Linked DNA regions of Homo sapiens. The protein of the gene in region 1 binds, or shares a complex with, the protein of each later gene. Each region holds a gene or a part of one and is shown on either strand. Other genes may lie near its edges.

The links.
Region 2: POLR2F (region 1) and GTF2F1 share a complex: the UniProt entries of both Homo sapiens proteins name them as parts of the TBP-based Pol II pre-initiation complex.

Annotation. Positions count from the first base shown.
Region 1 is NC_000022.11:37,963,562-37,967,310, reverse strand, and holds part of POLR2F (DNA-directed RNA polymerases I, II, and III subunit RPABC2), read right to left. Parts: intron 213-3,749; coding exon 141-212; intron 1-140. UniProt on the Homo sapiens protein: DNA-dependent RNA polymerase catalyzes the transcription of DNA into RNA using the four ribonucleoside triphosphates as substrates.
Region 2 is NC_000019.10:6,386,545-6,390,293, forward strand, and holds part of GTF2F1 (general transcription factor IIF subunit 1), read right to left. Parts: intron 3,160-3,749; exon of another isoform or gene 3,094-3,159; coding exon 2,900-3,093; intron 1,016-2,899; coding exon 845-1,015; intron 1-844. UniProt on the Homo sapiens protein: TFIIF is a general transcription initiation factor that binds to RNA polymerase II and helps to recruit it to the initiation complex in collaboration with TFIIB. It promotes transcription elongation.

The DNA.
Region 1 (3,749 bases):
CTGGTGAGCTGTTCCTAAGGATCTGTAGGAATAAGCATCAACTTCTCCAGCCAGGCAAGTGGGAGCAAAGGGTGCAACAGAGAGCCCAACAGATGCCTCCCAGAGATTTGGAGAAGTGAACCATGATTTGAGTGACTTACTTGAGTTCCTTCATGGCAATGAGCAGAGGATCTGTCTCCCCCTCCAGCTCCACCATCACAGGGGCACACATCCTGTAGGGATAGGGACAGGTGTTAGGGAGACTACAAACCCAGGGAGAAGGGCCCAACAGGCAGTGAGGGTGGAACGGCATCCTGGTCCCCACCTAGAAACGTCATCTTCTAGGTAGGCAGGCACAGTAGGGAGTGGTGTGTAGGGGCACTGCCAGAGATCTTCCCTGGCAGAGGCCTATCACAGACTCCGGAGTCCAGCGGCCACAGCAGAATGTCCTGGTGGAAAGGGAGACATGTGCAAAGGCACACCATTCTAACTGCTCCAACCCCAGAGCCTTGCCTCAGTGCCCAGTGCACCTCATTTCAATTTCTATTTTCTCTCTCTACTTTTTGGAGACAAGGTTTCACTCCCATTGCCCAGACTGGAGTGCAATGGGGAGATCGTGGCTCACTGCAACCTCCACCTCCCAGGCTCAAGCAATTCTCCTGCTTGGGACTACAGGCATACACCACCAGCTATGCTAATTTTTTTATTTTTTGTATAGATGGGTGAAATTAACATTTCGCCATGTTGCCCAGGCTGGTCTCGAACTCCTGGGCTCAAGCAATCCGCCTGCCTCAGCCTTCCAGATTGCTGGGATGAAAGGCATGAGCCACCATGCCCGGCATCATTTCCATTCTCTATAGACACAACACCTCAGTAGAGGCCCTGCCCTTCCTGCCCAGCCCTCCCCACCCTTCACCTGAGGCCAGCAGTCAGGGGGCTCACCTGCTTACAACACTGTCATGACTCCCCTTGGCTATCAGGCCAGAGTGCAGTCTGGTCCCTGTTTGCCTTCCTAGCACAGTCCCGTGCTACTTTCCTGTATTTACTCCACATTCCAGCCATACCAAACTATTTCTGGTTCCCTAGATGCGCCATGTTGTTTCCCTTTTGTGTGCTCTTACAAGCTCTTCCTCTCCCTAAAAACCTGCGAGAGGTTCAGATGTCTCCACCCTGGAAATCGTGTGCTGACTCTTCAGTACCTGGACTCATTTTGCATATACTTTTCTTGGCACCAATCTCATTGAACTGTAACTACTTGTTTGGAAACTTTCCACATTAGACCATGAGCTCCTAGTGGCCCAGAACCACATGTGATTCACCACGGAGGCCCAGCCCCCAGCATAACACTTGGCCCACAGTGGGGACTCTACCACCAAGCAAAGGGATGCCAATTCTAGGCCCATCTCCTCTAGGAAGCCACCCCTGATGATTCCAGCTCAGGTTCACACCAACAAATCCAGAATTAACAGGAGAGCATGCTAAAAAATACAGGTTCCTGGGTCCTTCCCCAGACCCCCGGAATAGAATCTCTAGTGAAGCGGCCTGAGAGCCTGCATTTGCAAAACTGCCCAGATGATTCTGATAATCAGCTAGTCTGAGAGCTACCAGCTTACTAATTTTATTACTAAATATTTCGATTTATATTACTCCCAAAAGCCTGAAAATTTCCCAAGGGCAGAGATGAAGTATTTAACTTTCCCTATATCCTCTCTTAATAAGTATTTAAACTTTCCCAAAATATAAAGCTTTAAAGAATGTGGCAAAATACCTGATCTGCATGTGCCTGCTTTCTTTCAAAATATAAATAATTCAAGGGCATTCACTCATTCCGCACCTATTATGCACATGGAATGTGCAAGAATGTGTCCTTAAGTAATTTAATTTTTCTTGCACCATGGCTTCTACAGAGAAACACATCAACCATCCAGTTAAGAAGTAGATGTGACAAACATCATCAGCCACCAGGTGGTGCTAATGAACCAGACTGAAACCCCATCCAAAACCTACCCAACAAACAGTTGTTCTGGCCAGGTGCAGTGGCTCACGCCTCTAATCACAGCACTTTGGGAGGCTGAGACAGGTGAATCACCTGAGGTCAGGAGTTTGAGACCAGCCTGGCCAACATGGTGAAACCCCGTCTCTACTAAAAATACAAAAAATTAGCCGGCCGTGGTGGCACATGCCTGTAGTCCCAGATACTCGAGAGGCTGAGGCATGAGAATCGCTTGAACCAGGAGGTGAAGGTTGCAGTGAGCCGAGATGGCACCACTGCACTCCAGCCTAGGTGACAGAGTGAGACTCCACCTGCACCTACCAAGTGCAGAGTCCCATTATGGCTGTACAAGAGCTTACAGCAGGCAAGGAGCCACCAGATGGTGTCATAGCCCTTAAGTGGAAAGAGCACTAAAGACTGGAATGAGCTGGATCAAGCTTTGCTCCCCAAGAAAAACAGGACACTTGGCTGGGCACAGTGGCTCACGCCTGTAATCCCAGCACTTCGGGAGGCCAAGGCAGGTGAATCACCTGAGGTCACGAGTTCAAGACCAGCCCGACCAACATGGTGAAACACCGTCTCTACTAAAAATACAAAATATTAGCCAGGCATGGTGGCGTGTGCCTGTAATCCCAGCTACTCAGGAGGCTGAGGCTGGAGAATTCCTTGAACCCAGGAGGCAGAGGTTGCAATCAGCCAAGATCATGCCATTGCACTCCAGCCTGGGCAACAAGAGCAAAACTCCATCTCAAAAAAAAAAAAAAAAGAAAGAAAGAAAGAAAAGAAAAACAGGACACTTGGATTTATGAGTGGCCTGGATGCTGGATGTTGGCCTCAAAACCTTTAAGTGCTGCACACTGCCCACCAAATGAACTCTAATCTTCTGAACCTGTCACTCACAGGACCAGTGTCATCTTCTCCAGCCTTATGCCCCAAGCTGCTTATGATCCCTCATCACAAATCCACAACTGCCTGCCTCCACCTGGACCTTTCCTTGGGCTGTTTCTGGCACCTGGAGTACCCACAAAACCAACTCTCTTTACCTGTCCCCACTAGAATTCTAATCCCTTCACAAGGCTTTCCCAGTCACCTCTGCAATAACTCTCTTTGTACCTTTCATAAAGCACCACTCGCATCTGCCTTGGGTTGTGGGTACCTGTGCACAGGTCTATCTCCCCCACCAGAAAACACCTGGAGGACTGGGGATTATGTCTTTTTTTTTTTTTTTAATTATTTTTGGTAACAGAGTCTCACTCTGTCACCCAGGCTGGATTAGTGGCACGATCTTGGCTCAGTGCAACCTCCGCCTCCCAGGTTCAAGCGATTCTCTTGCCTCAGCCTCCCGAGTAGCTGGGATTATAGGCGCGCGCCACCACACCCGGCTAATTTTTGTATTTTTAGTAGAGACGGGGTTTCACCATGTTGGCCAGGCTGCTCTCGAACTCCTGACCTCAGGTGATCCGCCCACCTTGGCCTCCCACAGTGCTCGGATTCCAGGCGTGAGCCACCGCGCCCGGCTGGGACTACATCTTTAATCATCTCAGCATCCTATCAAGTGCTAATGCAGTATCTTTCTTCAGTGCTGAAAGACTGTTTAACTTGCAAATAAGCAGTCTATTTGTTTTAAAAATAACTTATGAATTCTTCTTTCTACTGGGCCACTTTTAGCCTATATTAGTGTGCCCCATAGAATGCTCTGCAATGACAGAAATGTCCTATCCCCCTGTGCTATCCTTTATGGTAACCAGTAGCCACATGTGGCTACTGAACACACTTG
Region 2 (3,749 bases), on another chromosome or scaffold:
CGCCATTCTCCTGCCTCAGCCTCCCGAGTACTGGGACTACAGGCGCCCGCCACCATGCCCGGCTAATTTTTTGTATTTTTAGTAGAGACGGGGTTTCACCGTGTTAGCCAGGATGGTCTCGATCTCCTGACCTCGTGATCCGCCTGCCTTGGCCTCCCAATGTGCTGGGATTACAGGCGTGAGCCACCACACCCAGCCGAAAAAGGTGTTTTTTTAACCTTTGGGAGCCATCGACTCTTTGAGCATCTGCTCATCTGTGACCTGTGCAAATGCCATTTGTAGATGCGTCCAGAGTGCCCTCCCCACCATCTGCAAGCACCCTAGGGTGGTGGTGGCCCTACGGTCTCATCCAAAGCCATACATCCAAGACCAAGTGCTCTGGGCCCCCAGCCTCGTCCCCCTGCCCACAGTCACTCTGCACTGGCCTCATGCACTGTGTCCCTCCACAGCCCTTAACTGCACCCGCCCCACCTCTGAGGCCGATGTCACTGCTAGAGAAACCCTCCTCGGGTGCCCTGCCTGGAGCTGCTGCCCTGCAGTGGATCAGGCTGTGTGACCTGCAGCCTGCGGAAAGCCAAGGGGGCAGTTAGACCCCACCCTGCTCTGCCAATTTGAGCTCCGGGTCACAGACTCTGGCTCTGGCAGCACCCTCTGGGGTGCCCCATTGTGGCCCTAAGGCCTCCTATCTGTTTCCTCCTGAACTGACAGCTCTGAGACGGCCGAGTGGGGTCTGCCCTGGTTACCCCTGAGTCCCCAGCTCCCAGCACAGGGCCTGGTGATATATCCATGGCAAGGCACCCCATTTCCCTCACTTCTGTCCCCAGCCACCACCCAGCCCACTCACCTCTCCCACTCCTCCTCGGCCTCCTCGGCAGTGAGCGTGCGATGCCGGGCCAGCGGTGTGAAATTGTACCAGTTGTGCACGGGGAAGGCCTCGAAGGCCCCGTCGGGGCACTGGGTGAAGATGTAGTAGGACGTGTTCTCTGTTACGCCTCCCTTCTTGATGCCCTTGAACCTGCAGGGAGCCACGGTCATGGCCTGGCCCATAGGGACCAGCCCCAGCCCCCCCGTGTCCCCCCGGGGCCTGCCTCCTTTATGGCACTTGCCATAGGAGGAAGACCAAGAAATGCCCATGAGGCCTGGGCAGGCCCTTCAACCACCTGGGCCTCGTCAATTTCCACATCTGGGGAACAGGGCCGGCGCACCTACCCTGCAAAGTGCTGGGCGTGTGCACATCGGGATCATTTCTGGAAAGACTGTGTGAGATTATCTCAGGAGAGCCCAACCCTGCAGTCAAACTGTCTACATTTGCCTCCAGCTCTGCTATCTGTGGGCCACACCCGGGAAACTGAGGAGCCAAGTGAGAAGATGGGGCGGGAAGGCATGGCCAAATTTTTTTTTTTGAGATGGAGTCTCGCTCTGGCACCCAGGCTGGAGTGCAGTGGCACCATCTCAGCTCACTGCAACCTCCACCTCCCGGGTTCAAGCAATTCTCATGCCTCAGCCTCCCGAGTAGCTGGGATTACAGGTGTCTGCCACCACACCCAGCTAATTTTTGTAGTTTTAGTAGAGACAGGGTTTCACCATGTTGGCCAGGCTAGTTTCGAACCCCTGACCCCACGTAATCCGCCCGCCTCTGCCTCCCAAAGGGCTAGGATTACAGGCGTGAGCCACCGCGCCCAGCCATGGCATGGCCAAATCTGAAGTGGACACCTGGCCCGGGCCACCATTTCCTCAAGCCTAAACAACTGCCCAGCCTCCTTGAGGCCTCTACCTCATTCTTTTCTACCCCAAAGTTCCGGACAGTCTGGGTGAGTGCCTCTTCCCTGCCTACAGCTTTCCAAGGCTCCGCTGGACCCAGCACATCCTGGCACCCACTGCCCTGTGTGAGCTGCCTGTGTCTGTCACTATCACCCAACTGCTGTGCCTGGAGCACCCTTCATCAACCTAACCTGGACCCCTCCTGTTCTGCCCTCAGTCTGCCCCCTCTGAGAGGTCATCTCAAGTGTCATGAGCTCCCAGGGCTGGCCACCTAAGCTTCCTGCATTGTGGCACTCAGAGCTGCCTCAGAGCCAGGCACAAGCACCAACTCAGTGAACTGTCTTCAAAAACACAACCCCAGGGCCTGGGCAGTGGCTCATACCTATAATCCCAGCACTTTGGGAGACCAAGGTAGGAGGATCACTTGACCCCAGGAGTTCAAGACCAGCTTGAGCAACGCAGCAAGACCCCATCTCTACCAAAAATACAAAAATTAGCCAGGCATGGTGGGGCGTGCCTATAGTCCCAGCTACTCAGGATGCTGAGGTGGGAAGATCTCGAGCCCAGGAGTTGGAGCCTGCAGTGAGCTACGATCGCACCACTGCACTCCAGCCTGGGCAACGGAGTGAGACCCTGTCTCAAAATAAATAAGTAGGCTGGGCACGGTGGCTCACGCCTGTAATCCCAGCACTACGGGAGGCCGAGGCGGGAGGATCGCCAAGTTCGAGACCAGCCTGACCAATATGGTGAAACCCTGTCTCTACTAAAAATACAAAAATTAGCTGGGCGTGGTGGTGGCAGGCACCTGTAATCCCAGCTACTCAGGAGGCTCAGGCAGGAGAATAACTTGAACCTGGGAGGTGTGGGTTGCAGTGAGCCAAGATCGTGCTACTGCACTCCAGCCTGGGCGACAGAGCAAGACTCTGTCTCAAAAAAATACAAGTAAGTAAAATAAGATAACATAAATAAATAAATAAATAAATAAATAATAAAATCCTACAGGGATGGAAGTGCCAGCACTTCCACTGCAGCAGTGGGAATCTGAGGTTCAGAGAGGGTACCCCACAAAGTATGTAAGTTGAGGCCTGGGGATGTGGACTGGTCACTAAGCCGGCACCGCCACCGCCCCACCACTTACTTCCTGCCTGATTTGCCGTTGACCCGGAGCAGCCAGGGCTGGTCCTCGGGCCGGAACTCCTTGAGGACGATGCCGTACTTCTTCCTCCGAGCCTCCTCCCGAAGCTTGCGGTTGAACTCACTGCCCGCGCCCGATTCGGGCATCTCCTCCTCTTGGTAGATTTTCTTGTTGCTCAAGTCCCGCTCCAGCCGAGCCTAGGGGAGCAGGAAGCAAAGCCTCTCAGGGTCCCTGGCTTTGCTTGCGCAGTGCCCCCCTCCAGGAACGCCCTTCCTTGCCCTAGGCCAAGCTCTAGATTCTCAAAACCAACTTACCACTTGGCAACAAGGGAGGAGAACGGTAGCCTTTGACAAATCTGGGTAAAGGGAATTTGGGCGAGCCTTGCGCTCTATTTTTGCAACTTAAAAGCTTGAAATTATTTCCAAATTAAAATTAAAGAGAAAAAGACCACCTGGTGACCATCAAGCAGGCCATCGGAGGCAAAATTCCTTATCTGAGGAATGTAGAAGTAATTAATTAGACTTCCCTATTATCTACAGCAGGCATCTGGTTCCAGGATTCTTTTCAAAAAATGTCTAAGTACCTAGAATTTCCACACATCTCTCCAGAATGCATGCATATCGAAACTCATTGTGCTGTGGCTCACACCTGTAATCCCAGAACTTTGGGAGGCCAAGGCAGAAGGATCACTTGAGCTCAGGAGTTTAAGACCAGCCTGGCATCAGAATGGCTTGAACCTGGGAGGCGGAGGTTGCAGTGAGCCGAGATCATGCCACTGCACTCCAGCCTGGGTGATAGAGTGACACTCTGTCTTAAGAAAAAAAAGGCCAGGCGCGGTGGCTCACGCCTGTAA